Regions from separate parts of the Homo sapiens genome. Here region 2 is linked to region 1. The links come from fine-mapping of genetic effects on gene expression. A gene starts in region 1. The other region holds a variant in brackets. All regions are shown on one strand. Distances are from middle to middle.

Region 1 (14,345 bases):
AAGTTCATCATACTTATATTTTTAGCTTTTGATAGGAATTGCATGAACCAGAATTGTCAGACTTTCTATATTTACTGGCCAGGAATCTGTAGCATTACTATAAATAATGAACATGTCTACAAAAGCTCCTGTATGAAAGGCCGTAGGGATTTCCCGAAACTTGACAACAACCCAAATATGTGTATGACATCATTAAGAATGAATTGTGAAGCCAAAAGAAACTTTTCCAAGCTTCTTGATAATAAAAAACAAATTTTGACCAAATATGCTGGAGAAAAGGCTGCGTTATATTTCCATTCTCCATACTTGGTCTTAGCCAAAAGTCTGAGAAGCAATTATATTTCTTTTATAATTTCTTTTGTAAATTATATTTACAAAATTATAAAATAGGCAGCTAATAAACATATGGAAAAAGTATGATAGAGATGTTTTAAGCAGTTATTTAAAGAAAAATCTTAATTTTTTGGACTTCACGTTTGTGTTATTTGCCATTTTTTAAAAAATTATTTATTGTCTTGTGTTCTTTTCTTATTCTAAATATTAACACTCATATATAATTTTATATTTATAATCTTACTTTTTTTCCTTAAACAGGATGCCTCAAATTTTATAAGCTTTGGGATCCCACAAATCCTGAATCTCCCTGTCTCCTTCTTTAACCCACCCAAACCGGACTGGAATTTCTATTTTTCCCTCCTCTACTTTCCCATATTGAGGACCTGACTTGGGAAGAAGGTAGCCTGCACTGTTATCTAACTTGACAGATAGTTGTTGACCAGGGCAAAACGTTTATGCTAGGTTTTCTTTGGATTTACGTTTTGGGAGCTCAAAGCATGAATGAGCTTTGATGTAGTGGCAGAAATGCTGCTTGGGCAGGGAGTCACGCCTCATTCATTCTTCAGTGGGGAAAGGGCTGATGAGTGGGTTTGTGGATAACAGGGGAGGCAATAGCATGGGTTCCCAGACTTTAAAGAGGCCTATTAAATCGAAAGTTATCCTGGGTTTTGGAGCAAGGGAAGTAAAACTTCCTTTCTATTTTCAAACAATTTCATGCATCCATGACAAAGAAATATTGAAGATGTGGCCTCTTGGGAACTGGGAGCACCAGAAGTTGATTTTATGTAACATTTTCAGAAATAACTGTGGAATAGAATTGTTCAGTGAATTTTCCAAGTCTACAGTGTCATCGAAATCTTTCATTAATTGAATAACGATGTTAAACTGTAGAAAGAACTTTCAAGATCCCAAGAATGGGTAAAATGATGTTGGATTCCCTTAGCCCTGCAATATGAAGTTAGGTGAATGAGGGAAAGCAGCCAAGCAGCTCAGACCCTGCCTCTAACATAATTTCACCTGTGACTCTTGTTATACCCTGAAGACATGCGCTGGAAGGAATCCTAACACAGGCCTGTGGGTATTATTGGGAAGGACAAGGAAAAGAGAAAAGGGGTAGCACTTAAAACAGAAAATCGATGAGTCCCTGCTCCTGACATGTTGCCAGTTGCCCCCATGAAGTTAGGGGAGCAGAGAAAGAAACCAGTGTGATTGAATGGATCTTCAAATGGAGAACAGATGTTGTTACATGTTTACTTGTTCACAGCAGTATCTTTAAGTCTGAAAAATGGAAAGCTTCCAGGTCACAAAGAATGCGAAGGAACTCAGTCAAAGCTAAGGATCCTATGATGTGTGGGAATTTATGGGCAAATTCTCGAAGCTCAAAGGAGGTAGCTTACAGGCCGATGAGGGTATGTACTATCTCACACTGTGGAGAGCAGGCTCTGGGGACTCTGGCACATAAACAACAACAACAACGTAGGGTAGGGAAGGGCTGTGTGTGTAAACAAATAAACAACCTCTGCGTACATATCATTATTTTTTCCTAGTCCCAAGGATTCCTCAGATGCCTCGGAGGGAGGAATAGGAACTTCAAAGTGATGCTCAGCTGTGCGAGGAAATGTGAAGTCTGTTATTCAGAGAAGTGAGAAAGAGCCTGTCTTTGGAAGCAGGACCTGGATTTGAATCTAAGCTCAGCCGCTTACTACCCTCTGTGGACTTAACCTCTCTGAATTTCAATTTTCTTATCTGTAGCATGGCCATGAGAATCCTTTTCTCCACAAACTCACAAGATGTTGTCAGGATTAAATAAGATAATATATCTAGGACTTGATAGACTGCAGTCAATAGATGACAAATCTTTTTTTTTTTTTTTTTTTTTTTTGAGACAGTCTCCCTCTGTCGCCCAGGCTGAAGTGCAATGTCACGATCTCAGCTCAGTGCAACCTCTGCCTCCCGGGTTCAAGTGATTCTCCTGCCTTAGTCTCCGAGTAGCTGGGATTATAGGCACCCACCACCACGCCCAGCTAATTTTTTTAGTATTTTTAGTAGAGATGGGGTTTCACCATGTTGGTCAGGCTGGTCTCGAACTCCTGACCTCAGGCGATCCACCCGTTTCAGCCTCCAAAAGTGCTGGGATTATCACAGTGAGCCACTGTGCCTGGCTGACGGCATATCTTATGAACTCATTTTCACCTATACCTTCCTAAGGCCTTTGTTACAAATAAATTATAAAATACGTGTATGTTTACATGCGAGCATTTTCATCTGAAGTCATTGGTTCATGGCCGTGCTCTATTTATTTATTATGTATGAGGGACATGCTGGCAGGGGTCCTTCCTGTAATTCCATCCCACTGCTGCCTCCAAATGCAATTGCAAATCTTCCATTCTGTCAAACCTTATGAAATTATTTCCATCAACAAATGTCAGCTTTGGAATTCTCCTTATAAAAGCTCATTTCAGGCTTCCTTGGAATTCTTAAATAACTAAGCAAGCATTTGAGATCTGATACGCACAGGAAAGCACTGGCATAGGAAGAGATAATCTGCCTTAAATGCATACACACTCACAAAACAGACATTGTTCTCAGCACTTTCTTTTAATATTTTGGGGGCCAGGCTACCTAGTCAAATGCTGCACAGTAGGCTTCTTCTGAAATCAGCCTCCAGCAAGGGATTAGCACCAATTCTGAGAGCTGCCATTTATTTTGTTTACAGTCCCTGTGCAGTTTTGGAACACTGTGTTCCCTTTCTTGTAAGGGCACAACAGCAACACGGCCATGTGGCACTGGACAGGCTCCCCACTTCATGCTAGAGTTTCCTTTGGGCTGGCATTTTTTGCAAACAGCTTTGGGGCCTCTAGCTATCTGGTACAAAGGAAAAAGCATGGGCTTTAGAGGCATTCAAACAAACCTGGGCTCACCTTCTGCTGTCGTGTGCTATGTGCTTACTTAATCTGACTCTTAGTTTGTTTTTGTTTTCTTCTGCAAAAGGGAAATAATAAAATTATAGTCTTTGTAGGAGCAATGTGAGGACTGAATAAGACAATGAGTGTAAAGCACCCATGATAGTGCCCGGCAATGTGAAACACTCCAATAAATGAAGTAATTATTTTAATAATGGCAGTTAGGGAATGTGCAATGTGCTTTTCTTTGTTGTGATTTCCAGTACCAAACTGCTCTGCCTTTGCTTAAAGAATTCAAAGACACACATAAAAATGTTTCACTGTACAAGGTTCTGCTCAATGATATGACTCTTAGCAGTAGTAACTATCTTTTCAAATGCTCTGGTGGCCTGGCAAAAAGGCTGTATTAGTGACAAGTTGGTTACTCTCTGAATTCCTGCGGCCTTTTTAACCTATCTGGAGAAAGACAAGGCACACTTCCCTGGTTTGTTAACTGTGAAGAAGCAGAAGTGAAGAGAAGTGGACCTCGTACTGATGATGACATGAACACTTACAAGAATCCAAAACAGCTGTTGTAACTCTGCAGCTCACCCTTGGCATGGCTAAAGAGGGGTGGGTGTGGCCAGATTATATGTTGTTGATATGCACAGTCATGTGCAATGGACACTCACTTTTCAATGAATATGTTTTCTACAAACTTCTTGCACACGGGAGTTACTCTATCAAGGTGAGTGTACCATGCTTACTGTTAGTGTCCTGAGAAGGCTTACTGCGGTGAGTCTCATCAGTGGGGATGAGTGGGTGGGTGTTCGCTGTGTGTGTGCCAGGCATTTACTCTAGGAGGCTGGTGGCAAGCATCCCACAGCATGGTGGTGGGGCATGCATCATATGGCACGTAGGAAGGAGAGCACAGCTTAGAATTGCATAGGCCAGGACTCCAGTCTTAGCTCGGCTGCTCATCAGCTACCTTGAAGGAGCTATCTAACCTTGCACCTCATTTTAAAATAAAAACAATAATGTCTACCTTGCAGAGCTGTTGTTACTATTATAAATAAAAACTGTACTGTATTTTGCACAGTGCCTAGTATAATGAATTAACAATAAATCATGGCTTATATTTGCCATTCCTTAAAAATAATCTAGATTTACATAGGAGAGTGATGGGGCCACAGGGCAAGCTAACTCATTATGTAAATAAACAGATCTCTGAGCAGGTCTGCTTACCTTCAGCATTGAATCCAGCCATTATATCATTAGTAGCTACTCACAGAGGAAAAAGAACACCTAGAGTTAATTACTAAGTGAAATCCTGGCCAGGGCCTAGTTCCACAGCAAATCTTCTCGACACCTGAGCCTGCCCTGGGCCCTGCATATGCTGAGGTGTTCATCTATCATTGAGCACCAGAGGAACATGCTTTCCTTTCATAAGGACCTCCCATGTTGGTTGGCCTCCTTGGTGAATGAGCACTGGAAACAGGATGAGCTGGGCAGACCTAGCCTCATCCATCTTTGCTGCATCCCCACAGGAAGGACCATCTCCCAGCTCCAAAGTACTGCTCCAAATGAATGTAATACAGATCAAGACAGCAAAGCATGGTCTTATGGACCTGCTGGGACTAGGAGCGGTTTGATCATCTGTGGAGCTATCCCACAGGCTGGGGCTGGGTAGAATCCATAGTGTAAGTGACATGGTGGCCAAAGGTTGGATGTTCATCAGGGAATTCTGCTCCCCTTCTCTGTTGCTGGGAAGTGGCTGCTCAGCCAGAGAAGATGTTTTCAAGAGACACCTGCATCTACTTAATAATTTGGGCCAGGTGACAGTTCTGGCCATGGGAAGCTAGGAGGAAGTGATGTATGACACTTCCACACCTGGCCCACAAAACGCTCCGGCCCATCCTTTGCTCTCTGATCCTATCTGTTGGCAGCAGTGCTGGGGACATGCCCGTAGGATGGCAGAGCCTGTCTCGGCATAGGCTCCACAGGATTGTCTGGCACGTCCCTCATTCTTGCCTTGCGCCAATTCCTGCATGAGTGGGAAGTGAATTTCTATTGTGTTTCATCACTGAGGTTTGGGGCTTTTGTGTGGTAGAAGCCACGTTACCTTAATTCAAGGTGATTTGTGATTCACTTTCTCCAGAATGTCAGCCCAGGCATGCTGGAGATTTGGCTCTGTAGTGACCAGATAATTGAGGGTATCTGGTAGGGGATTACCCCAGGTAAGACCAAGTTACTTTGAGCCAACACTCAGTACCTGTTGACACATTTCAGGACAAGAAGGAAGCTTGACGTTTAAAAGTTAATCCTGTGGCCTTGATGCTGAGTGAATTTATAATGCAGAATAAGCCCCAAAAAGAGACATCTATTTACTACAAATTTTTATTATTTACTTATTGTTATTATCTTTTGAGACAGGGTCTGCTTTTGTCACCTAGGCTGGAGTACAGTGGCATAATCACGACTCACTGCAGGCTTGACCTCCCTGCCTTAAATGATCCTCCCACCTCAGCCTCCTGAGTATCTGGGACTACAGGCTGGCTAATTTTTAAACTTTTTGTAGAGACAGGTTTTCACCACGTTGTCCAGGCTGGTCTCAAACTCCTGGACTCAAATGATCCACCCACCTCGGCTTCCCCAAGTGCTAGGATTACAGGCGTGAGCCATCGTGCCCAGCCTACTACAAATTTTAAAGGCTCTTTCTTGGAATTTCATTATCCAAGTAAACATTTTGGGAGTTACCTGCTCCATAATTATTTATTGATAGATTTATTTAACTGGAAAAGAAACACCAAGGCCTTTATATTCCCCATCCTAGTTTATGCAAAATTGGTTAGATGTCTTAAGCAAAGAAAAAAATAGTCCTAACAACCACTTGAATTTCTAAATGCCTTAAACAATACCTATAGGCTACTAAACTGGCCAGATAATATTACAAAATTGGCTGTGCTGTGTTTTTCATTTCAACCCTTTCTCTGTAAGGAAGGGTCCCCAGAAAAGAACAGTTCACTTTCACTTCAGTAACTGGTGGAGATTATCCTCCCTTCCTTTTTCAGACTGTCCCATAGACTTCTTGCACTGGGAAATTTGCCAAGTTCCTCACATTTTAGCCACATAAGGCAAAACTCACCGGAAACATGCATTTCCCTTCTCTTCCAGCAACAATGACTTTACCCAGAGTCACCAGGAAGTCCTGTCCACTGTCAGCTGTGCAGTATGTGTGTGTGTGTGTGTGTGTGTTTCACCCAAAATGTGGCATGAAACAGACTTACATAAAAAACAACAGAAAGGCCTTTTTGCAGCACTGCTTGGAAACCCCCATCCTGCTTGATAAGCCTTCTTCGCTGTGTTGCCCCTGCAGGGGCCACTCCTGCCTAAGCTGGGTGGTGGTCCCCCACCTCACCTGTGGGCAGCTCATCCTGGAGGACACAGCATGGGTGAGGGGGTGCCTATTCTCAGTTGTCCCTAGGCACAAAAATTCTGCTACTTTTCTTTTTTAGGAAAGTGATTCCCTTCCAGAAAATATTTTTTTCTTGCTTCAAGTAGAATACTTTTTTTTTTTTTTTTTTAAATACAGGGTCTCACTGTGTCACCCCGGCTGGAGTGTAGTGGCACCATCACGGCTCACTGCAGCCTTGGCCTCCTCAGGCTCAAGTGATCCTCCTTTCTCAGCCTCCTGAGTAGCTGGGGCTATAGGTGAGCACAACCACTCTCAGTTAATTTTTGTATTTTTTGTAGAGATGGGGTTTTGCCGTGTTGCCCAGGCTGGTCTTGAACTCCTGGACTCAAGCGATCTACCCACTTCGACCTCACAAAATGAGGGCTTACAGGTGTGAGCCACTGCACCCGGCCAGCACTCTCAGAATTGATCCTTGTCATGTTCCTCTCACCCATCACTGTAGCTGAAGCCCTGGAGAAGCCACTGATTACCCTCTAATCGTCCTAGGTGTTGGTTTCTCTGTTAACATAATGTCTATAATCGGAACTCTTAACCAGGAAAACTTCCCAAACAATATAAATTCAGTGAAAATATGTGCACTGCTCATACCTGGTTCCCCCGGTACTGTTGCTGCATAAGAAGTCACCCCTTAATTTAGTGGTTTAAAAAGATCATCTTATTTATGCTCTCAGAGTCTGTGGGTTTGGAATTTATTTTATTTTATTTAATTAATTAATTAATTAATTATTTAAGATGGAGTCTCACTCTGTCACCCAGGCTGGAGTGCAATGGCACGATCTCCGCTCACTGCAACCTCTGCCTCCTGGGTTCAAGCGATTTTCCTGCCTCAGCCTCTTGAGTAGCTGAGATTACAGGCAAGTGCCACCATGCCCGGCTAATTTTTTTCTATTTTTAGTAGAGACGGGGTTTCACCATATTGGTCAGGCTGGTCTTGCACTCTTGACCTCGTGATCCGCCTGCCTCAGCCTCCCAAAGTGCTGGGATTACAGGCATGAGCCACCACACCTGGCGGGTTTGGAATTTAGACAGCAGGAGTGGCTTGTCTCTGCTGCATGACAGCTGGGGCTGTGACCACTGTGGGTAACGCAGCAGCTGGGGTGTATTATGGTCTAACGGCTCCTTTCCTTATATGTCTAACCCTGGCCTGGAGCACTGGAGGATGAGGTCCGCTGACTGCAGCGTCCATCCTGGTCCTCCCCAGGCACTGTGGCCTCCCTCACAGCATGGCTGCCTTGGGTACTCGGACTTCACGTGGAAGGCCAGGGCTCCGAGAGCAAATGCCCCAGCAAGACAGAAGCTCAGCCGCCTTTGATGACCTAGAAGCTAGGCAGCATCCATTGTACTGCCTTCTATGGGTTGTGAGTGAGTCCCAAACCTGCCTTGACTCAAGGAAACGGAATTAGGCTCTACGTCTTGACTAGGTAGTGGCGAAGTTCTGGAAGCACATGAGTAGGAGATACTGTGACGGTTTCATCTTTGGAAAATACCATCTAGCACACCTGAATCTGCTTTCAGGGGGTGTAAGGGGATTTCCATGGCAAAATTTGAAGCCACATGTGGTCACTGCTTTGTACTGAGGAAACAAAGTGCTCTGGGCATCCAGAAAGGGGGTACGTTTTTTCTTACTGGGATAAATCTGGCTGCATTTTAGCTAATCCTGGAAAATTGATCGACAAAAGCAAAGGACCAAGAAAGCTGCTTATATCAGTGTCTCCTCCACCCTCAGCCTCCAGTAGCATCCCTACGTTTTACAATTTTATTTATGTCACTTTAAATAAGGTAAGCTCTCCTTTGCTGTTCTGGTGTATTTAGACATACACGTATTTTGCTGTCTTGGGTTCTCGTGATAATACTCTTACATCTTTGCACGCTTCATTTTGACCCCTTCCTACTACTTTGATTTTCCCATGACTTTATTCAAAATTTGGAGAGAATAACCCACTCGGCTCTCTTCTCCCTGGTTGCTTTCTCCACTCATTCTAGCTACCTCTGCTCCATAAAATTATGCTCAATCAAGTATCACATTATTTTTATCTTTAGTTGTATGTGTCGTTCCTGTGTCAAAGAGCTTACCCTGTGGGTGCTGTCCAGCCATCTTGAACATTTTGCAAGGCAAATTTATTTATTTATTTATTTATTTTGAGACATGGTCTCACTGTGTCACCCAGGCTGGAGTGCAGTGGTGTGATCATGGCTCACTGCAGCCTCTAACTTCTGGGCTCAAGCAATCCTCCCACCTTAGCCTCCCAAGTAGCCGGGACTTCAGGCAGGCACCGCCATGCCCAGCTAAGTTTTTAAATTTTTTTCTAGAGACGAGGTCTCACTATGCTGCCCAGGGTGGTCTTGGGCTTCTGGGCTCAAGTAATCCTCTTGCTCTGGCCTCTTAAAATGCTGGGATTACAGGCGAGGGCCACCGTGCCCGACCTGGCAAATTTATTGAAAATTGGGGCAATATTGAATCATCTTTGTATCCCACTGACTAGCAAGAAGGTAAGATACCATGGCTGGCTCAACACAGCTACTACCTAGAAATACACTTCTGTGTTATTCAAACCAGGAGTCAGGAAGGAAAACTAATTGAAAAATACCTTCTGAGTATCTGAATTGGGCAATTGCTATGGGGAACAGAATGACAAAGAAGCAGTACCCCACTCCCCAGAGGAGCTTCCCATCTGCTGGGGGTGCCAAAGCATGAACACATAGAAAGGTGAATAACCACAGCGTGGCAGGCAGGATAATGACACCCCTAAAATGTCCACATCCTGATCCCCGGACCTGTGAGCATTAGCTTACATGACAAAAGGGATTTCGCAGATGAGATTAAGTTAAAGATCTGAGATGGGAAGATGAGTCTAGACTATCCAGGTGGGCCCAGTGTAGTCACAGGGTCCTGATAAGTGGACAAAAGAGTCAAGATAGTTGGAGTTAATGCGAGTTAAGACCGGACATGGCTCTCTTTGGAAGACGAGAGGGGCCTTGAACCAAGGAGTGAGAGCATCTCTAGAAGCTGGCCAAGGCGGGAGGGAACACAGCCCTGTCTACACCCTGATTTTAGTCCAGTGAGACCTAACTTGGACTTCTGACCTTCAGACTGTAGGATAACACAGTTGGGTTGTTTTAAGCCACTAAGCTTGTGGAAATTTGCTATAGTAGCATTTGGAAACTAATACAAATAGCAAAGTTAAATGAGATAAGAATCCAGAAAAAAAGTGTCATAGGTCAATAAGCCAGAAATCGCCGCATACTGGAGCTTCTACTGCAATCTCATACGTTCATCCGCCTCATCGCCCATGAAAACTCTCGTTTCTGGAAAACGAAGGGTGAAAAATAATTAGCTCATGGGAAAAGTAGAGGTGGGCAGACCATTCAAAACTTAACGGAACTTATAACCAGAGCCTTGTTACTATTACCAAGAACAGTAACGATGCTAGTTGAAATATCAGTATAATCGATACAGTTAAATCTCCACTGGCGTCACATCTCCCTCCCACCGTACATCCTTTGCAGTTTTATACCCTGGGCTTCTGATTTCCTCCTTGCAAATGAAGTGTTCTTTTTTTTTTCAACTTTTATTTTAGAATTAGGGGGTACGTGGGCAAGTTTATTACAAAGCTGTAATTTCATGATGCTGAGGTTTGGAGCACACATGAATCTGTCACCCAGGTAGTGAGCATAGTACCCAATAGATAGTAGTTTTTAACCCTTAACCCCCTCTCCTTCTCCTGCTTTTTGTATTCCCCAGTATCTACTGTTCCCATTTTTTGACCATGTGTACCCAATGTTTAGCTCCCACTTACAAGTGAAAACATGCGATATTTGGTTTTCTGTTTCTGAGTTAATTAACTTAGAATAATGTCCTCCAGTGCATCCATGTTGCTGCAAAGGATGTGATCTCATTCTTTTTTATGGCTGCGTAGTATTCCACAGTGTATATGTGCCACATTTTCTTTATGACATTTCTTTCTGAGACCGACCTGCTTCATTAAAATAAAAAATACAACCTGAAGGTAGCCTGTTTGGCCAAGCATTTCTTTTTAAACACCGGGGGATACGTCTTTGCAGATTCTTCATCTTCATTTGCAACTTTCCCAGATTAAAAAAAAAAAGTCCAGTTTAAAAGTATAAAGCACTCATGGAAGACACTTCTGCTGGTAGTCCGATTTTTTTCTTAAAGTTTTCAAACAGTGCTAAAGTTTTCTATTTAATTCTGAAAACCCTACTGCTCATGGCCTCAAAATATTAATCTGCTTGGAAAAACTGATGAACAGCAAACTGTAATTGGTAGATGCCATGAGGGCTGTTGGTTTAAATGAGGGTGGGAGCAGGTTGGGGAGGCCTCTTGCTGGAGGTGGGCTCAAGCTGAGCCTGGAGAATGAGTCAGACGGGAGCTTACAGCATCACTTTCCAGGTGGAAGGAGGAAAATATGGTGCCCGATCCAACATGGGGTGTCCCTGGTGGGCTTTGTTTGGCTCAGACACCCCAGTTGGTGTAGTCCTATTGGCCAGAGCAGCCGCTCTCCCACACCCACAGCTGCTGTTGGTCCTGGGCTTGGGCCTGGAGAAGCCCCTCTTCAGGAGGCTGGGCCAGCCCTATTCTCACACCTAGAGATAGCGCAGCTCCCTCTCTTGGCGTTCAAGCCTCTTGGCCCCTAATTCCCCCTTCAAAGCAGCCTCCTGAGCTTTTGAGGGATTGTCACTCTTGGAGGAAATAAAAACGTAGAAAAATATAGCAGAGCACTCTAGGGAATATGTACTTTCTCAACTTTTCTAGCCACCATCCTTTAAGCAATTATAATGCTTCCGGCTATCACAGGACATTGAGAGGGAAAAGGCCTCATCGACATACCAACTACAGGCCAGGTGGACCTTCGGTGCACACACACCCCAGCGCCCACAGAGATCCAGGCCTCCTGTGTATGAATGTGTGCCATGAATTTAGACCTATTTCTCGCCTTCCGGGCTCTCTATTCCTCATCCTCCATCCAAGTGGCCATCTTGTGCAGGTAATTCTTTTCTCTCCCCTCACCCTTTCCCCCTGCTTCTCCCTACTCTCCCTCCCCCTGTTTCTCTCTGAGTCTCTTTCCCCCTTCTGCCTTCCAGTGCATCCTCTGCAATTTGAGGTGACCCTCTTCTCCAGCTGCTGCTGCAGAACCCCAAGTGTGGTCCCCACACCCCCTCACGGTACACTTCAGCAGGAAGGTGCTTCTGCGTCCCCCTGTCCTCATCCTCCACTGCAGCTGTCCTGCTTCATCTCTTCCTCCTGGACTCAGGTTGGCCTTGGGCCCTGCTCCAAAAGGAGCACATTCACCACAGCTTCAGACTTCCTCCTGCTGCCGCTGCTCCTCGGAAGCAAACCTGGTGACTGCTGATGTCCAGGCCTAGACCATGCCTGGCAGAGCAGCCATGGGGTGGAGAAACAAGTCCTCAAGAGGGCTGCGAGGAGAGGCACAGAGACGGTCAGGGAAACTGAGGTCACACAACTGGGAATAAGAAGGTGGGGTGCTGGGGGGCTTGTCAATGTGGTTCTTCCACAGAGGATGGAAAGCCCCTTCATTTCTGCCCAAGAAAGTATCTTCAGCATTCACCGAAATCTCCCCAAGAGGGAAGCGCCGCAGGAAGGGGAACTAGGAAGGAAATACAAGCTGGTGCTTACTCCATCCCCGTCACAAAGAGGCTCAGAGAGAGACTTGGGAACGATATGCATATGCAATTTTTTAAATCACTCATTCAAGAAATAATAATGAAAAATGAGTTATAGGCAATGGATTAGTAAGTGCTGATCAGATTGACTATGTAAGTGAATTACATTCAAATTACATGTGAAGGAGCTCTATCAAGGGCAATTATGGGTCCTTCGAGAGGCTTTAAAAAGAGGAGGGATGAAACTTGGTTAAAATGGGGGCTCGTTAAAGGCAAGAGGAGTACAGAATGGTTGAGGTAACTTTCTCTGTGCCCCACTGTCAGCCCTGCTCTGCCAAGCAGGCTTGCAGGTGGGGATATTTGCTTGCTCTGGGTTCAGCAAGTCCTTGTGCTGCCTTGCCTAACCTGCTTCCGAGGTATCGGGTTTTAAGCTGGTGTGGCAAGAATGATATTGGCCTTTGTGTTCTAAAGGAGTGGCATGAAGCACAGTGGACCTTGATCTTCAATTGACGCCACAGTCTCCCTAATCCACTGATCTCCAATCATCCCACTAGATTAGCCACCCTATCAGGCAGTATTTTTCCATGTCCCATGTGCTCAAGGACGAAGCTTTAAAAGCAAGCTTGGAAGCTTATGCGATGCAGTACAGTGTCGGGGGTTGGCAGGGGAGAGAAAAGCAAAGGACTTACATTTGTTTTAGAAATTGCTGCCAAAAGATAAGCTTGTCTGTGCAACTATATGACTTCTGACACTGAGGCAGGGAGGATTGTGAAACCAGGATAGACAGAATTTCAGCCAGCAAATAAGTACACGTTCACTTTAGCCAGGGGGTGGGGTGGGGAGGCGGCTGGGAAGGGACTGAGTTTATGAAGAGGCCTAGAGTAATAGTTTCTGAAGCATTACTTATCTAGTGCTAGGCGGCAGAGTTCATTTTGTTTGTATGCGGTGATTACTTGCAGTCTACATGCAGAAAACCAGTTTATCTAATGAAGCGCAGGACTACAAATAGAGGTTTCTTAATAGAACCAGGCGACTGCCATGGGCCTCACCCTGACCGCTGGGTCACAGAGCCTTACCATCGGGGACTAGGCTTTGGGAGGCACTGAGGCAAGTTGGAGAATTAGAAAAGGAGTCAGCCATGAGTTATGTCCTGGCTATTACCGAGAGATAATCTAAAAAATGAAAATAAAGCTGCATATCAGGAGTTGGAAGCAATGTTTTACTGAAGGGCAGTCCGGAGACATGCATTTTGTTTCCAGGTGTTCAAATGCACTTCCTCTTGCTGAGGGGGCCCGAAAGCCTCCCGCTGGCTGCTCTGGGTCCCAGGTGCGTCCAGACGTTGCCAGACACACCTCTGTCAGGTGAGGCAGGCTCCAAGGGAGGAGGCCTTGGCTTTGTTAATTTTGCAGAAGAGCAGGGACTTTCATGACAATTTTTTTGATCTAATGACAAGCTATTTCCTCTACCATTAGTGTCCCGAAGGGCAAATTCTAAAGCCAAGGCCATTTGATAAAGCCTGGGGAATTTATTGCAAGGCAGATGGACACAGCAGCAGCACATAAGAGCACACGCGTGGGGCTCCAGCCCGGCCACGGGGAGACCTTTTCTCAGCAAAGGGCAGCACTGCTCGCTTTGCTGGGGCAGCCCTCCCAGGAAGATCCCAGAAGAGATGGTCTGAGGTGTGTGAACACTGTGAATGTCATGGACAAAGCTCAGCGTGGGACCCCATGGGACTTCAGGTTATTAAGATGTAAATGTTGGCCAAAAGCTTATGTGTGAATTTTATTTTTAAGTTGTGACTTCCTTCCTCTCTGCCTGGGCCAGTGCACAAGCAGGAGGAGGGAGAGTCGGTATTACTCTGCAAGAGCTGTTTCTCCAGGTTTCTGGGTGTGTTCTTGAGTGAATAGAAATCTGACACCACTGAGAATTCACTGACAAAGGCTTTCCGTCTGCAAGGCAGTGTGTCACGCACTGGCCCTGACCAATCCCATTTGGAGCTGAAGACTCCAGAA
Region 2 (16,881 bases), 23 kb after region 1:
AAGTTGGCACAAGTTACAGGTCACAAAGACCTTGCTGATAAAACTGGATGCAGTAAAGAAGCTGGCCAAAACCCACCAAAACTAAGATAGTGATGAAAGTGACCTCTGGTTGTCCTTACTGCTCATTATATGCTAATTATAATGCATTAGCATGCTAAAAGACACTCCCACCAGTGCCATAACAGTTTACCAGTGCCATGGCAACATCAGGAAGTTACCCTATATGGCCTGAAAAGGGGAGGAACCCTCAGTTCCAGGAATTGCCCACCTCTTTCCTAGAAAACTCATGAATAAGTCACCCCTTGTTTAGCATAAAATCAAGAAGTAACAATAAGTATAAGCAGCTGAGCGGCCCATGCTGCTGCTCTGTCTATGGAGCAGCCATTCCTTTATTCCTTCACTTTCTTTGTTTTTTGTTTTTTGTTTTGTTTTTTTGTTTGTTTTGAGACAGAGTCTCACTGTGACACCTAGTTTGGACTGCAATGGCGCGATCTTGGCTCACTGAAACCTCCGCTTCCCAGGTTCAAACGATTCTCCTGCCTCAGCCTTCCGAGTAGCTGGGACTACAGGTGTGCACCACCATGCCTGGCTAATTTTTGTAGTTTTAGTAGAAATGAGGTTTCGCCATATTGGCCAGGCTGTTCTTGAACTCCTGACCTTAAGTGATCTGCCTGCTTTGGCCTCCCAATGTGCTGGGATTACAGGCTTCAACCACTGAGCCTGGCCTACTCCTTTGCTATCTTAATAAACTTGGTTTCAGCTTACTTTATGGACTCGCCCTAAATTCTTTCTTGTGCAAGGTCCAAGAACCTTCTCTTGGGGTCTGCATCAGGACCCCTTTCTGCCCTTTCTGGTAACAGTACCATAATAACAAATATTATCGAGCATATTTTCATGTAATTATTTGCAACTTGTATATCTTCTTTGGTAGAGTGTCTGTTAGAATATTTTGTCTATCTAAAAATTGGGTTTGTTTTCTTATTATTGAATTTTGAGAGTGTGTTATATGTTCTGGACACAAGCCCTTTATCAGAGATATGGTTTGCAAATATTTTCTTCTAGTCTGTGACTTTTCTCTCTTAACAATGTCTTTTGAAGAGCAGGTGTTTTAAATTTTGATGAAGTCAGATGTATCAATTTATGATTTTAATAAATCATGCTTTTAGCATAGTATTTAAGATACTTAACCCAAGGTCACAAGAGTTTTCTTTTAGAAGTTTTAGTTTTAGGTTTTGCATTTAGGTATATGATCCATTTTGAGTTAGTTTATATACATTGTGCAAGGTAAGGACTGAGGTTTTTAATTTTTGCATATAGATTACCACTTGTGCCAACCTCACTGTTGTGATGATATGATAGAAATCACTGTCTTTTCTCCACTGACTTGCTTTTGCATCTTTGTAAAAAGTTGGTCATGCCAATGAAACTGACCCAATTTTCCCATAGAACTGATGGGAAAAACTGTTTACAGTTTTGTTGTTGTTTTTTGTTTTTGTTTTTGTTTTTAATGAACATTGAAGTGGACTCTCCAGGTTTTAAAGCTTGAGAAACTTACATTTGTCTTATCTGAGTTTATTTCTCAGGAAACCAGCTGTCAGGCCTCCCAGATAGTATCAGAAAGCTGAAGATTTCCAGATCGCTGCATCCTAACAGCAAGGTGCCAGAACCCTGATTCAACTACCTACTGCCTGTTGAGCAACTCCTACATAAACTCCTAACTTTATTGGTTACAGAGACAGATTTTAGACTTGTCTCCCATATCCTGGCTGGCATCACCAGCAATAAAGCCTTTCTTCCTGGCAGTACTTGTTGTCTCAGTGATTGGCTTTCTGTGTGGTGAGCAATCAGACCTAAGCTGAATCCCTGGCATTCACCAACACATAAATGTGCAGTTCTGTTTCTGGACTCTCTCTTCTGCTTCATTGATCTGTTTTTCTAACTTTATGCCAAAATTGCACTAGTTTGATTACTGTTCCTTTATAATAAGCTTTGAAATAATGTCATATTAGGCCTCCAACTTTGTTCTTCTTTTTGAAAACTGTTTTGGCTATTTTAGGTCCTTGCATTTCCATAAAAGTATTAGAATCAGCTTATCAATTTCTCCAAAAAAAAAAAAAAAAGCCTACTGAGATTTTGATTGGGATTGCACTGGATTTATAGACCATTTTGGGGAGAACTGACATCTTAACAATATTGAGTCTTCCTCCCATGAACAAAGTATATTTCTTTATTTGTTTAGGTCTTCTTTAATTTTTCTCAACGATGTTGTATGGTTTTCAGTATATAGATCTTTCAGAGTTTTGTCAGATTAATTCTTAAGTATTTAATATTTTTGACCTAATTGTAAAAGGTATTATTTCTTTCCGTTTCAATTGCCAATGGGTTATTGCTAATATATAGAAATGCAATTGATTTTGCCTATAACTTTGCTAATAGTTCTAGTAGCTTTTTCATGTGAATTCCATTGGCTAGTCTACATAGCTCACTGACGCTCTGTTCATTAAAAGAATTTTTTCCCTCTGAGTTTCCTTTTAGGTAGCGTCTTTTGCTATGATTTCAATTTCACTTTTTTCCCCTTCTTCAATAGCTAATCTGCTACTAATCCTATAGTGTTTTTTTCATCTCAATATTGAACTTTCCATCTGTAGATGATTTGAGTCTTTTCTAAATCTTCCATGTCTCTATTTGACCTTTTAAACATATAGAATACAGCTATAGTAACTGTTTTAATGTCCTTTTCTGTTTATTCTACTGTCTGTGTCAGTTCTGGTTTGATTTCAGTTTATTGATTATTCTCTTCATTATGGCTAGTGTTTACCTCCTTCTTTTCATGATGAGTAATTTTTTATTTGATGCCAGCCACTATAATTTTATCTTGTTGGGTCTTGGGTTCTTTGCAATCTTATAAGTGTTCTTCAGCTTTGTTCTGCAATACAGTTAAGATACTTGGCAACACTTGAATACTTAAAGTCTTGCTTTTAAGATTTTTTAGGTGGTACTACAGCAGTGCTCAGTTTAGGCATAATTATTCCCCACTACTAAGTTAAGACCCTTCTGTGTACTCTATTTATTGCTTCATGAATCATGGTCTTAAATGTGGCTGGTAAGAATAGGTACTATTTCTAGCTGTGTCCGAGTATCAGACATTGTTTCTTCTAATCCACTCAGGTGGTTCTTTTGGCCTTGGGTAATTTTCTGTCATGCATGCACAAATCAATACTCAGAAGAATACTTAAGGAGGTCCCTCTGCAAAACCCTAGAACTCTGTGTGCACAAATCTCTCCTCTCTGGGAACCTGCTTGTGAGTTCTCACTGCTGTGGTTTTTCCAACCTTCAACTCTGTCTCCCCAACTCAGGGAGGCCTTGGGGCTCCACCAGGGTTCCCTCTCCCTATATCTTAGCCTCAAAACTCTTTCACAGTAGTAAATTTTGGCCACTGTATGGATGACATTATTTATGTCTCATCTCTTAAGTATCAAAGTATCATTATCCTTAATTGCCTGGTGTCCAGTACCTTAAAATTGCTATTTAATATATTTTGCTTTTTTTTTTTTTTCAGGGAGGAGGGTAAATCCAATCCATCTTGAATGAGCATATGTATTAGTTTTTATGCTCCTGATAAAGACATAGCTGAGGCTGAGCAATTTACAAAAGAAAGAGGTTTAATAGACTTATAGTTCCTTATGGCTGGGGAGGCCTCACAATCATGGCGGAAGGCAAGAAGGAGCAGGTCACATCTTACGTGGATGGCAGTAGGCAAAGAGTTTGTGCAGAGAAACTCACATTTTAAAACCATCAGATCTCCTGAGACCCACGAGAACAGCACAAGAAACAGCACGGGAAAGACGTGCCCCCATGATTCAACCATCTCCCACTGGGTCCCTCCAACAACATGTGGGAATTATGGGAGCTACAAGATGAGATTTCGGTGGGGACACAGAGCCAAACCATATCAGGGTAGAATGGTATTAAAGAAAAAGATTTTCTTACACTTATTAAGGCAGTAAGAAAGATTTATTCAAGATTATTGCAATAGGTATCAAGACTGTGCAATAGGAGACAGGAAATGGTTGAGCTCAACTCTGAATACAGCAAAAACCACTGGAGGTTTTTAGCCAGTGAGCAGAATGGGAGGAGAAGAGTCAGTGGATGGAAAATTACTAAGAGGAGAAATCAAAGGTGGGAGGATTTTCCCTAAACTGACTTAGCAGGACTCTTGTTACAATTGGACTAGGCAGGCTGAAGACAGGATGCAAGGACAAAGCTTGTTGAAAAGAGGCCTCAGAGGAGCTCATCTAAAATTTGGTCAAGGGGAGGGTCTTTCTTGGTCCCTCCTCTTGTTCAAGGGAAAAAGAGACATTCTTCTTTCCTTTGAACAATATAAGTCAATTTCTCATTTGGTGGCCTTTTTTTCATTAAGGACAAGCTGAGCCCCCTGCTGAAACTTGGTAGCAGGGCAGCCAGTTGAGAAGATTTCTAGATGTCAAGGCATCTTTAGATGATGGGGTGAGGACTGCAGTGGCCATCCCAGATCATGGATTTTCTGGTTTGCAGTTTGAATGTCCTTGGTGATGGCATAGACATCAGTGTCACAGTCATGGTTATTTTTCCGAGCAGAGTGTAGAAGTGTCCAACTTCATCTTGAAGGGCTTCTTTAGACAGTCACAATAAAGATCTGGGAAGTTAGGTTTTAGTTCTCAGTGATGCCAAATCAGGACAGTGGGAGAAAAATTAAAAACCTCAGTTTGGAGAGTGGTAGCCAGATAGTAAAGGGAACTAGAAGAACTGAGAATTTGGTAAGGACTGACAAGCTGTGCATGATGACAGGATCCCGTTCAATTTACAAGTAGATAACAAAACCTGAAAGACAAGTACAGGACCAGAATAATAACCCATAAGAAGGTGCTATAGTTTTTATAAAATATCTTTCTACAGTCATCCCCCTTTTTTGATCCAAATTAACCAAAGTAAGATTATTCTTGTTTACAAAATAAGTCTTGTCTCATTATATTTGACTTACTTATTTGCATAATTGCAGCAAGAATGGCAACTGACCAGGTAGGCTTATTTAAGTTTGCATTGCTGGAACTTTTTACAAGTAATCTCAGATTATGCTTTCAAGAGTTCTTGAAGCTATAAAGCCAAGTCAAGCACCACCAGGCCTTATCTGCAATGCCTAGAGATTCAGATGGGTTCTTCTCTTCTTGAGGTCCTAAAAACATCCTGAGTTTCTTTGGCCTGCCAGAAAGTCACCTTCCTGACTCACCTGTAAGGCTGGGAACTCCATAATCCAGGTACCAGGCAGACTTTCCGGGAGGGCTTCATATGCATTGGCTCCATAAAGTTAACCTTAGTTCCTCAAAACTGTCTGTTCATATGTGATTTTATGTCTTATTCTCAGTTGGAAATGCAGAAATCACCTGTCTTCTGCGTCGATCAGGCTGGGAGCTGCAGACCGGAGCTGTTCCTATTCGGCCATCTTGGAATGGACCCCCATGTCTTATTCTCAAATAAAACATTTTGGTCAAAGCCTTGATTATCTAATCAATTTTTAAAATTATGTTCTGTTACAAAAAGGACAGATTCTTATCGAACCCATATAAAATAGTATATCACCATTGATACGGTTTGGATCTGTGTCCCCACTCAAATCTGATGTTCAATTGTAATCTCCCAGTGTTAGAGGTGAGGCCTAGGGGGAGGTGATTGGATCATGGGGACATTTTCTCATGAATGTTTTAGCACTGTCCCCTTGGTGCTGCTCTTGTGCTGGTCAGTGAGTTATCGTGAGATATGGTTGTTTAAAAGTGTGTAGCAGCTGGACATGGTGGCTCACACCTGTAATCCCAGCATTTTGGGAGGCCAAGGTGGGCAGATCACCTGAGGTCGGGAGTTCGAGACTAGCCTGACCAACATGGAGAAACCCCATCTCCACTAAAAATACAAAGTTAGCTGGGTGTGGTGGCGGGCGCCTGTAGTCCCAGTTACTCGGGAGGCTGAGGCCGGAGAATCGCTTGAACCCGGGAGGCCGAGGTTGCCGTGAGCCGAGATCGTGCCACTGCATTCCAGCCTGGGTAACAAGAGTGAAACTCCGTCTCAAAAAAAAAAAAAGAAAGTGTGTAGCACCTTCCCACTCTCTCTTTCTTCCTTCTGCTCTGAGTATGTGATGCGCCTCACTCTCCTTTTGCCTTCCACATGACCGGAAGTTTCCTGAGGTCTCCGGAGAAGCAGAAGCTGCCACGCTTCCTGTGCAGCCTGCAGAGCCGTGAGCCAATTAAACCTCTTTTCTTTATAAATTACCCAGTCTCAGGTATTTCTTTATGGCAAAGTGTGAACAGACTAATACAACCATGAACATAAAAATACTCAGTAATAGTTTCTGAATTATGGAAGGATTAGGAAAAAAGATAAATGTTCCATTTTTGTTATAGAAATGTATCTACTAAATTGTTACATATTATAGCTAACTTAAGAGAAAAAGAAAAGGGGTTCCTTATGTCCAGAAAATAGAACATTAAGAACAAGCAATGTTCCAAACAAAAAGCCATAAAAATTATACTCCTTCTTTAGTTGATTCAGTCCTATGTAATTAATTCTTGTTTTGCTTGATCATGGGTTAGCAGTTTCATGAACTCAACTAGAGTTTCGAAAACCCTCACTCAGTCCAGCAGTATGATATTCAAGTTTTTTAGGCCATGTCAGTATCAGATGGGGGCTGGGGAGGTTGATGGGTAGAAAATTATTAAGAGAAGTAATTACCAAGAAAAATATCAAGGGGAGGGGAATTCTTGCTAAACTGACTTTAACAGGATTCTTGCTGAAGGCAGACCAGTGTGGTCAGAGGTCAAGGTTGAGGGACTCTCACTAAATTGGCTTAGCAGGATCCCTGCTAAAACTGGACTAGGCAGGCTGAAGCCTGGGTCCAGGGATGAGTCCTGTTAAAAAGAGGGCTGAGAGGGGCCTTCTAAAGTTTGGTCACTGAGACTGTCTTTGTCAAGGGCCCTTCCTATGTAGTATTTATGACGGTATTTTGTCTGGCATTAATAGAGTTAATATTGTGTGCCTTTCACAGCAAATCAAAAAATATCAGAGCATTTAAGAGTATCAAGATATCATGTTGACCTTGGAACTGATAGCTTGAAGCAAAAAAATAAAAAAATTGCTGCTTAATTCCTCTGATAAGCTCTTGAAATAACTGAACTCTAACCCTGGTAACCGTCACCTACTTCACAAGGTTGATGGAAGGCACAGGTAAGAAGAGAAAGCCATAACTGTTTGAAGATGGGCAGATTCTGACCAAGACTCCAGACTGTAAGGCCAGGAAAGAGAGAGGGCTTTCCTAAGTCTTGAGCCCAGGTGTATGCCTGGATCCCCAGTCTGGGCTCTGGCAAGAGACAATCAAAGATCCCAGCAAAAATATTACACTGTTCCAATTCATGGTTAAAAATGTTGGCATAGGTAGTGGTATTTATCTCTGGGTTTTTAATTGACAACCAGGAGCAGCGAGTTAATATTGAAGAGCCCTATTCAGGAATGAATATACACACTCCAGGGGTGGTCTGTTGGAATTTGAAAGACTATTAAGAGGCTCCTCCTTTGGGAGGCCGAGGCAGGCAGATCAGGAGGTCAGGAGATCGAGACCATCCTGGCTAACATGGTGAAAACCCATCTCTACTAAAAATACAAAGAATTAGCTTGGTGTGGTGGCACACGCCTGTATTCCCAGCTACTCGGGAGACTGAGGCAGGAGAATCGCTTGAACCTGGGAGGTGGAGGTTGCAGTGAGCCGAGATCATATCACTGCACTCCAGCCTGGGCGACAGAGCTGGACTCGGTCTCAAAAAAAAAAAAAAAAAAAGAAGAAGCAGCTCCTGCTCTAGAGAGTCAGCTATAAGAACTTCCTCTATCCTCAATGAACACCAACAGCTTTGCTATCTGGCATAATGGATTTTAGGAGTCATTTTCATTGGTGAAGTAAGAGTTGTTCAAAATATTATGGGCTGACTGGAAGCACTGTATCAGATTGCATCTCCTTGCATAAACAGGGTATTATGACCTAGAAAGCCTAGTGGATAATGTATGCCCTTCCAAATGCTGTCTCTGGTTTGGGATTTGAATCAGGACTTGTATCCACAGCTCATAGAAAGGTTCCTGCACCTGACCCTGACTAGACATGAAGCTAAATCATGCTGTTCGAGTACTGTCACATCTGCCTTAAGTGAATCTGTTATGTAAGGCACCTGTCAGTGTGCCAGCAGAACAAAGCACCAGTACTTGGTTGAGTTTACAGAACTGGTTGTACCACGTTTTTGAGCCTGCTGGCTTCTAAATGTTTATTTTATGGCCGAATTCCGTCTGAGACTTGCTTTCATTGTAACATACCACCTGGTATGAAGCTGAGGAGACCTATAGCCCTCACCTACATCTATTATGGGCCCACATACATGTGTTTGTGTTTCTTAGCTTAGGGAGGTTTCAGAAGCCCCGAGGCTGGAGTAAAGCATGGTTACGGACTCTTGTTGTAGCAGAAATGTTGCTTACTGTCTTTCTATGACCCTTTGTATTTCTGTGTATTGGTTCTTCACCACTAATAATAAACCGCCTCAGTTCTTTTCTTAGAAGGACGTTGAACACTAACTATACGGCATTGAGCTAGGGATGAATTAAAGGGGAGCTCCCTGGAACTCCAGGAACTGTTTTCAAAATGTGCCTGTTTGTGTTTATATGGTAACGTTTGGCTGAATCCATTTCACCTTCTGAGTAACACTTAAGGCAAAGCTGAAATTCTTGCTGTCAACAAAACCCCCAAGACTACAATTTCTACCCAGCCTCTTTCAAAAAGCATGGAAAACCTCCTCCATTCCAGCTTATTTTTGCATTGAGGCTGGTATTTCATTTGTTTGTTCTTTCGCTTTCTTTAAGCACCACTGCCCAGCAGTGTGGCGTGAGTACTGCTTGCTTTCTGCTCCCAGTCTCACTTTTTTTTTTTTTTTTTTTTGAGACAGAGTTTTGCTTTGTCACCCAGGCTAGAGTGCAGTGGTGTGATCTTGGCTCACTGCAGCCTCCACCTCCTGGGTTCAAGTGATTCTCCTGCCTCAGCCTCCTGAGTAGCAGGGATTACAGGTGTGCACCACCACACCCAGCTAATTTTTGCATTTTTTGTAGAGATGAGGTTTCACCATGTTGGTCAAGCTGGCCTCAAACTCCTGACTTCAGGTGATCTGCCTGCCTCAGCCTCCCAAAGTGTTGGGATTATGGGCGTGAGCCACCTCGCCTGGCCCCAGTCTCTCATCTTTGTACCACACATATAACTTTGGTTTTGTAAGTAAGAAAATGCTTACTCCTTGCTGTTGACTACACTGTGAGATTCCTTTTGAGAACCCCACAAATAAAGTCAATACAACCATCAGGAATCCTTAGACTCATTAAAATTCCAGACCCTGTAAAAACAATATTTCCTGTTGAATCTCAACATGAACAAAGAGTGATCAACTGAGAGTCAAACGTGACTGTGGGATGAGTGAGTTTGGACATTAACCACATGATGTGTAGAGGAGGCACATCTCTTGTTGACACTCGCTTGTCCATGTGACACTTCTGCT[T/C]TCCTGACACGCACTCATGGATACCACGAGTGTGTGTGTCATGGGAAGTGCACGCCACCGAGCGGGCGCGGGGGCTGACCGGGCTGGGTCACTGCAGTGAAAAGTCATGTGGAAAAAGCTACCATTCATTTAATTGTTTTCACTTCTCACCTTGAACTCAGCTTTGTGACCACTCTGTGAAAACAAAACCAACACAGGTATCCTGCCACAGAATCGCCATGTGTTAAAAGATTCCACAGAGGTGTGACTGGACAGCAAACAGCGTTTTTCAGAGAGCTCCCTGTTAGTGGCAAAATGAACATTCCCTTAGGAGGGCAGATCCCTTTTCTCAAAAGGCCAGAGGATGGGGATGCGGAAGGGGGTTGACTGTCTGATTGGGATTTATGCCAGTGGAATGCAGCCAAGTTGTGCTTATAAAGGCCTTATTCTTCCTCAGGTCAGAGCAGTACTACTGGGAGAGCCAAGGCGCTTCTCTGGATGCACTCAACTACAGGGATCTTTCTTTTGTACATGCTTGAATATTTACCATTAGGTTTGATGTAGTGGAAAGACTCCTGGATTTGGAATCGGAAACTCTGAACGAGAAGACACTTATTTTGTCACGGTACGGGAGGAAATGTATCTTCCTTGCCCATCTCAGGTTCAGGGCTGAGGCCCATATAAGAAAAGACAGATTAAGAAGAGAAAAGTATACACATTTAGTTAATCTAAGTTTTACTTGACACGGGAACCTTCATAAGGAAATGACCCAGAGAAACAGTTCAGCCTGGCTTCTTTTGTACAACAGGTTTGACGAGAAGTGGCCAGGTGTGCGGAAACGTGATTGGGGAAAGAGTGTGGTCTGATGGGAATAAACTGGGGGAAACTGAGCAAGGCCTGTTTGTTCAGCTTCTTCTTTGTCTTCAGAAATAAGGATGTTCCCTTTCTCCGGGTCTAGGGAGGGCACCGCTCACAGGAGGGTCTTACGATGACCTGCTTCAGGAGAAGGTCAGAAAATCCTTCTTAGGTTTTACGACCTGATTCAGCAGGCAAGGTGAGGGGAAAGGTGAGAGGGAGCTTCTTGCACGTGCCATCTCTCAGATTCCTTCAGCTTAAGATATTCAGTGTGTCAAGGTACCACAGTTTGGGGTAGCATGTCCTGAACCCTGTCATTACTTAACCATTCTGAGCCTAGAGCTGTCTTTTGTAAAATGCAGATAATATCCCACGCCTTACAGGACAGTTCAATCAGAGGAATAAATAAAAGTGCCTATGCAGGTACCTGGAGCATAGTACATGCTCAATAAATGTTTTTGCTCTCAATCTAATTTTAAAATTAATTATATCGGTGTAATCCTTCCATAGCTCTTATTTAATTTTTATGTTTGACTCCCCAAGGAGGTTGTAAATACATCCTAGAGGGAAGGGACCTTAGATTATCTTTTTATGAAAAGTCAACAGCAGTAAGTGAAAGAAATCACTGTACATTAAATTTTTTTGTCAAATGAATGTCACTGCTTTCTAAAAGTACTTAAAAAACACTGATATTATGCAACTTCCTCCTAGCTCTGGAGACATCCTGGAGGTTACCCTTATGACTCAACTAAGAAAGCCCCTCAGGACTGAGGATGGGACAACTGGGATGTAATTGGGAATTGAGGGGGTGATGGAGAGATCCACTCTCCATACTGTTCTCTAGGAACAGCGGGGACACACCTGCTGCTCTTGTTCATCAGCTCGTCAGCCATCAGGCTGCCCCTTTGCTCTTGCTTTTAATACACTAGCACCTGTGCAGGAAAACAGAAGAAAAGAACACACATTCTTCAGGCCTTTGTGATCCCTCCTGTGTTCATTCGAGTGAACTAGAGAACCAGAGCTGGGAAAACCCCCATGGCGATGCATGCAAAGACATGCACACAGGTGACTCCTGTCTGGGTACTAGCTGGAACAACAAACACTATGCTATACGTTCTCTGAGGTCCACGTGGTTGAACTTGAGTCTGAGAAAGCATCTTGTCTGATGGGTTCACCCAGAAGCATCTCAGGTCAGGACAGAAAAATCCTGACATCAGGAGCATCCATGCTGCTTTGCCTTGACCAACCGGTCACCCTGAGTGTGATGGAAACTAGATTTACTCTGGCTATTGAGGCATGGTCTTTCTCTTGCTCTCTTTAATAGAACTTCCTTCTTTCACTAACAATGAGGTTGAGAAAGTATGTTGAGGCTTAAATATTTCAACAAGACGGAGCGCCAAAAGCCAGGAGCTTCCCAGTATTTCTGAAGCTCTTTCCGCTTTTCCAGAATCAACCCCCTTTTTCTATTTACTGTCATCCATTAAAATATAATGCTCTGTCAACACCACTGTTTCTGTTTTGAATCTTCCAAGCCTGGGTTTGGTAAACAGTTTTCAATTCATTGACTGTTAATCATTCATTTATCTGCATGTTCAATGACACCAGCATTTGCTGTGTTCTTCCTATGTGCTGGTCGCCGGGTTTTACAGATGAACAAAATGAAGCTCAGAGGATAATCACTTCTCCAGTGGCAGCTGCTAAGCAGCAGAGCTGGGATTTGAAAGAAGCTACTCAGGCTTTAAGTCCCATGTATTTTATTCAATACACCTAATTTCAACATCTAGCAAAAATAGAAAACTGATGATAATCTACCTGTAATTATGGATACTTTCATTCTTTTTTTATTTTAATTTTTTTTGAGGCAGAGTCTTGCTCTGTGGCCCAGCCTGGAGTGGAGTGGTATGGTCTCGGCTTACTGCAACCTCTGCCTCCTGGGTTTGAGCAATTCTCCTGCCTCAGCCTCCTGAGTACTGGGACTACATGCATGTGCTACCACACCTAGCTAATTTTTGTATTTTTAGTAGAGACGGGGTTTTGCCACTTTGGCCAGGCTGGTCTCAAACTCCTGACCTTAGGTGATCTGCCTGCCTTGGCCTTCCAAAGTGCTGGGATTACAGGAGTGAGCCACTGCACCTGGCCTATCCTTTCACTCTTAAAGGAACTTTTCCAGCTATTCCACCCAACTGGCTGCCAGCGTTACCTTCCTAAATAACTTTGCCTTTATCATCTCTAGGTCAACATACCATCAGTTCAGGAGGAAAAAAATAGGTTTGAGATTAGAGATTGGGAATATTGGTTCAGACGCCAATTCTTAATTGCAAGATCTCCTATACTTTTAATTATACTTGTAGGGGAGGAAAAACATTTGTTCTCTGCTCTCCTGTGTTCAGTGGTTGGGGGCCCCAGGAATTAAATTCACACAAGACAGACTACCAAGAGAGAATAACAGATACAATTATGTATGCTGGCACAGGAATTCACAACGAAATGTGATTCGAAGAGGCATTTAGAATTTGGAGCTTATATAAACCATCTTAGGCTGGACAAAGGAAAGGGGATTTTGGGCTTCTGAGATGGGAGGTAAGTTATGGGAAGGTGAAGGGAGAAAATGTATAATAAACAAGTGTTGTTTAATAACGTTTGTTAGGCAGATAAGAGTCGCCTCAGGTGCTAAAAGTTGTCTCTGGAGTATTTCTCTTCCTGGTATGGGAAAGGGAGACACCCTTACAAATGGAAATTTATGTCCTGTTTTTAGACAGAATAGGGGATGGCAGACAGCGAATTGCCTTCAGCTCAAAACAATTCTTACGCCAAAGTGGCATATTTGGGGGTGGCACATTCTATTTCCCATTATACCCAAGATGCATGAATCTGAAGCCCTACTTTTTTGTTTTAGTACACATTACTTCCATTGTTATTTAGCTCTTTTCCAAGGCTATAAGCTACTTAAGGAGAAGAGAAGTGGTTTCTTTAGTTTTGTGTCTGTGGCATTCCCTCTTAAAAGCTACTGTTTATTTAGCACCCATGATATCTCATGTGCTTTATGTACATTACCCCCAGAACACTTTCAGTTAATATAAAAATCTCCATTTCACAGATGAAGACATTTACCCTCAGAGAGATTAATTGGTTTACTGAAATCATTCTGCAAATATGTCGCAGGGGACTCAGGATTTGTTCCTAGATCTTTGTATTAGTCAGCGTCTTCAAGAGAAACCGAACCAATAGAATGTGTATTTAGGTATATAGAGAGATTTATTTTAAGGAATTGGCTCATGTGATTATGGAGGCTGGCAAGTCCAACGTCTGCAGGGTGAACCAGCAGGCTGAAGACTCAGAGAGGAGCCAATCCTGCAGTCAAGTCTGAAGACTGTCTGCTACCAAAGTCCCTCTTGCTCGGGAGAAGGTCAGTCTTTTGTTCTATACAGGCCTTTGTGAACCCCCAACATTTGAGACAGGTCTAAGTTAATTTAGAAAGTTTATTTTGCTACAAAAATTAATCAGGCATGGTGGCAGGTGCTGGTAATCCCAGCTACTCAGGAGGCTGAAACAGGAGAATCACTTGAACCTGGGAGGCAGAGGTTGCAGTGAGCCAAGATCGTGCCACTGCACTCCAGCCTGGGCAACAGAGCAAGACTCCATCTCAAAAAAAAAAAAAAGAAGAAAAGAAAGAAAGTTTATTTTGCCAAGGTTGAGAACGCATGCCCATGACACAGCCTCAGGAGGTCCTGATGACATGTGCCCAAGGTGGTCAGAGCACACCTTGCTTTTGTACATTTTTAGGGGACATGAGACATCAATCAACATATGTAAAATGACTATTGGTTCAATTCGGAAAGGCGGGACAACTCGGAGCAGGCAGGGGGCTTCCAGGTCACAGGTAGGTGTGAGACAAACGGTTCCATTCTTTTGAGTTTCGGATTAGCCTTTCCAAAGGAAGCAATCAGATCTGCATTTATCTCAGTGAGCAGAGGGATGACTTTGAATAGAATGGGAGGGAGGTTTGCCCTAAGCAGTTCCCAGCTTGAATTTTCCTTTAGCTTAGTGATTTTGACGGCCCAGGATATTTTCCTTTCACACCTTCAGCTGATTAGATGGGGCCCACCACATGGGGAAGGGCAATCTGCTTTGCTCCAAGTCCCTCATTTTAAAGGTTAATCTCATCCAAAAGACCCTCACAGAAACGTCCAGATTCATGTTAAGCCACATATCGGCACACTGGCCCAGCCAAGTGGACAGAAAATTAACCATCAGCATTTTCTGGTAGGAAATTTCACACTCACTTCTTTTTATCACATTAAGGTTCTTCTCAACGTAGGTTAGTTGGTGACCTTGAGTCAAGTTCAAGCCATGCATGTTAACCTGGAGCAAAAGCCCCCCCTCCCCATCTTACGTGAAATGTGTAATCACCAATTTCAGGTCTTTGTTTACAGATAAAATTTCTAAGGGATTTTCTGTCTCTGGAAACTTAAAAGGCCAACCTGATGTGGGTGTTTTTTCATTTGTTTTGTTTTGTTTTGTTTTTGAGCGGAGTCTCGCTTTGTTGCCCAGGCTGGAGTGCAGTGGTGCGATCTCGGCTCACTGCAAGCTCCGCTTTCCAGGTTCACGCCATTCTCCTGCCTCAGCCTCCCGAGTAGATGGGACTACAAGCACCCGCCACCAAGCCCAGCTAATTTTTTTTTTGTATTTTTAGTAGAGACAGGGTTTCGCCATGTTAGCCAGGATGGTCTCGATCTCCTGATTTCATGATCTGCCCACCTCGGCCTCCCAAAGTGCTGGGATTACAGGTGTGAGTGGGTGTTTTTAAAGAGTAGAGACATTCTCAAAGGATCCTGTCTCTGGAGCCAGCTTTAGGGACCTCTTGGTTAGTTCTGGAAGACAATCTAATACAAGGAAGTGGAAGAGAAGAGAAGAGAGATTAGGTTTTTATATTTAAGCAAAGCCACTTTATTCTTACTTTCTGAAATGAGAGAAAAGGGAAATGTAGATAGATTGATCATGGGCCAGTACATTGATAGCATGTATAATTAAGTTTTCCTAAAGTTGCAGTTATATTTTAGCCTGCTTTAGATGGCAGTTTTGCTTTCAAGATATTTAATTTTTTTTTATTAAAACCAAAAGCAAAGGCTTTAAGAAAACTAATTTCCCAGAATGTGTTTCTGTGATTCTGGAAGCTTTTCCTGGTGGGGCTGAGATCGGAAGCAGAGCCGTCAGGCCAGCAGAATGGGGGGGAGGGGCCGTGGAGATGGAGGAGATGGGCTTGTGAGTGCTCTGGGATGGAAAAGCCGTGGGAACACAGTCTAGTCTGTCCTTTCAGCCAAAGACCCCCAGGCGGAACTCTATGGCTCAAGGTGTTCCAAGTCGTCATTTATTTTCATATTTGTACTTTTTATTGTGATGAAATAGACATAAAATTTGCCATTTGAACCACTTTTAGGAGGCCGGTACACTGGCATTGATTACATTCACAATGCTGTGCAACCATTGCCACCATCTATTTCCAAAAATGTTTTCATTATTTTCATCATCCCAAACAGAAGCTCCATATCCAGTAAACAGCAGCTCTCTCTCCCCTCAGTCCCTGGTAACGTCTCTTCAACCTTCTGCCTCTATGAAGTTGCCAATTCTAGGTTCCTTGTATGAGCAGAATCATTCAGTGTTTCTTTTTTGGGTCTGGCTTCTTTCGCTTAGCAGCATGTTTCCAATCAATGTTCATCCATGTCGTAGCCTGTGTCAGAACTTCATTCCTTTTTTTGCTTGTTTGTTTTTTGTTTTTTGAGATGGAGTCTTGCTCTGTCACCAAGCTGGAGTGCAGTGATGCTATCTCGGCTCACTGCAACCTCGGCCTCCTGGGTTCAAGCGATTCTCCTGCCTCAGCCTCCTGAGTAGCTGGGACTACAGGTGCGTGCCACCACGCCCAGCTAAATTTTGTATTTTTAGTAGAGGTGGGGTTTCACCATGTTGGCCAGGATAGTCTCAATCTCTTGACCTCAGGATCCTCCCACCTCGGGCTCCCAAAGTGCTGGGATTACAGGTGTGAGCCACTGCGCCCAGCCCTTCATTCCTTTTTATGGCTGAATAATATCCCATTGTAGGGATACATTTGTTTATGCATTTCTTTCTTTCTTTTTTTTTTTTTTTGGTTAGACAGAGTCTCGCTCTATTGCCCAGGCTGGAGTGCAGTGGCATGATCTCAGCTCACTGCAACCTCCACCTCCCGGGTTCAAGCGATTCTCTTGCCTCAGCCTCCCAAGTAGCTGGGATTACAGGCACCTACCACCACACCTGGCTAATTTTTGTGTTTTTAGTAGAGACGGGGTTTCACCATGTTGGCCAGGCTGGTCTTGAACTCCTGACCTTGTGACTCACCTGTCTTGGCCTCCCAAAGTGCTGGGATTACAGGCATGAGCTGCCATGACTGGCCTGCATTTATTTTTTGATCCGA

What was found.
Region 2: its variant is fine-mapped to the expression of LINC02363 in monocytes (BLUEPRINT, PIP 0.95).

What each region holds. Positions count from the first base shown.
Region 1 is chr4:184,347,440-184,361,784 of GRCh38, reverse strand. LINC02363 (long intergenic non-protein coding RNA 2363) reads left to right here and starts at 7,808. Exons shown (of 3, transcript NR_040108.1): 1 at 7,808-8,472; 2 at 11,507-11,696. RefSeq lists enhancers at 7,738-7,807, 13,888-14,237, 14,318-14,345, 14,115-14,345.
Region 2 is chr4:184,322,940-184,339,820 of GRCh38, reverse strand. No RefSeq gene overlaps it. Among named protein-coding and RNA genes, the nearest start is that of MYL12BP2, 17 kb to the right of the region's middle. RefSeq lists an enhancer at 11,257-11,816. The variant T/C (reference allele first, on the strand shown) is at 9,603.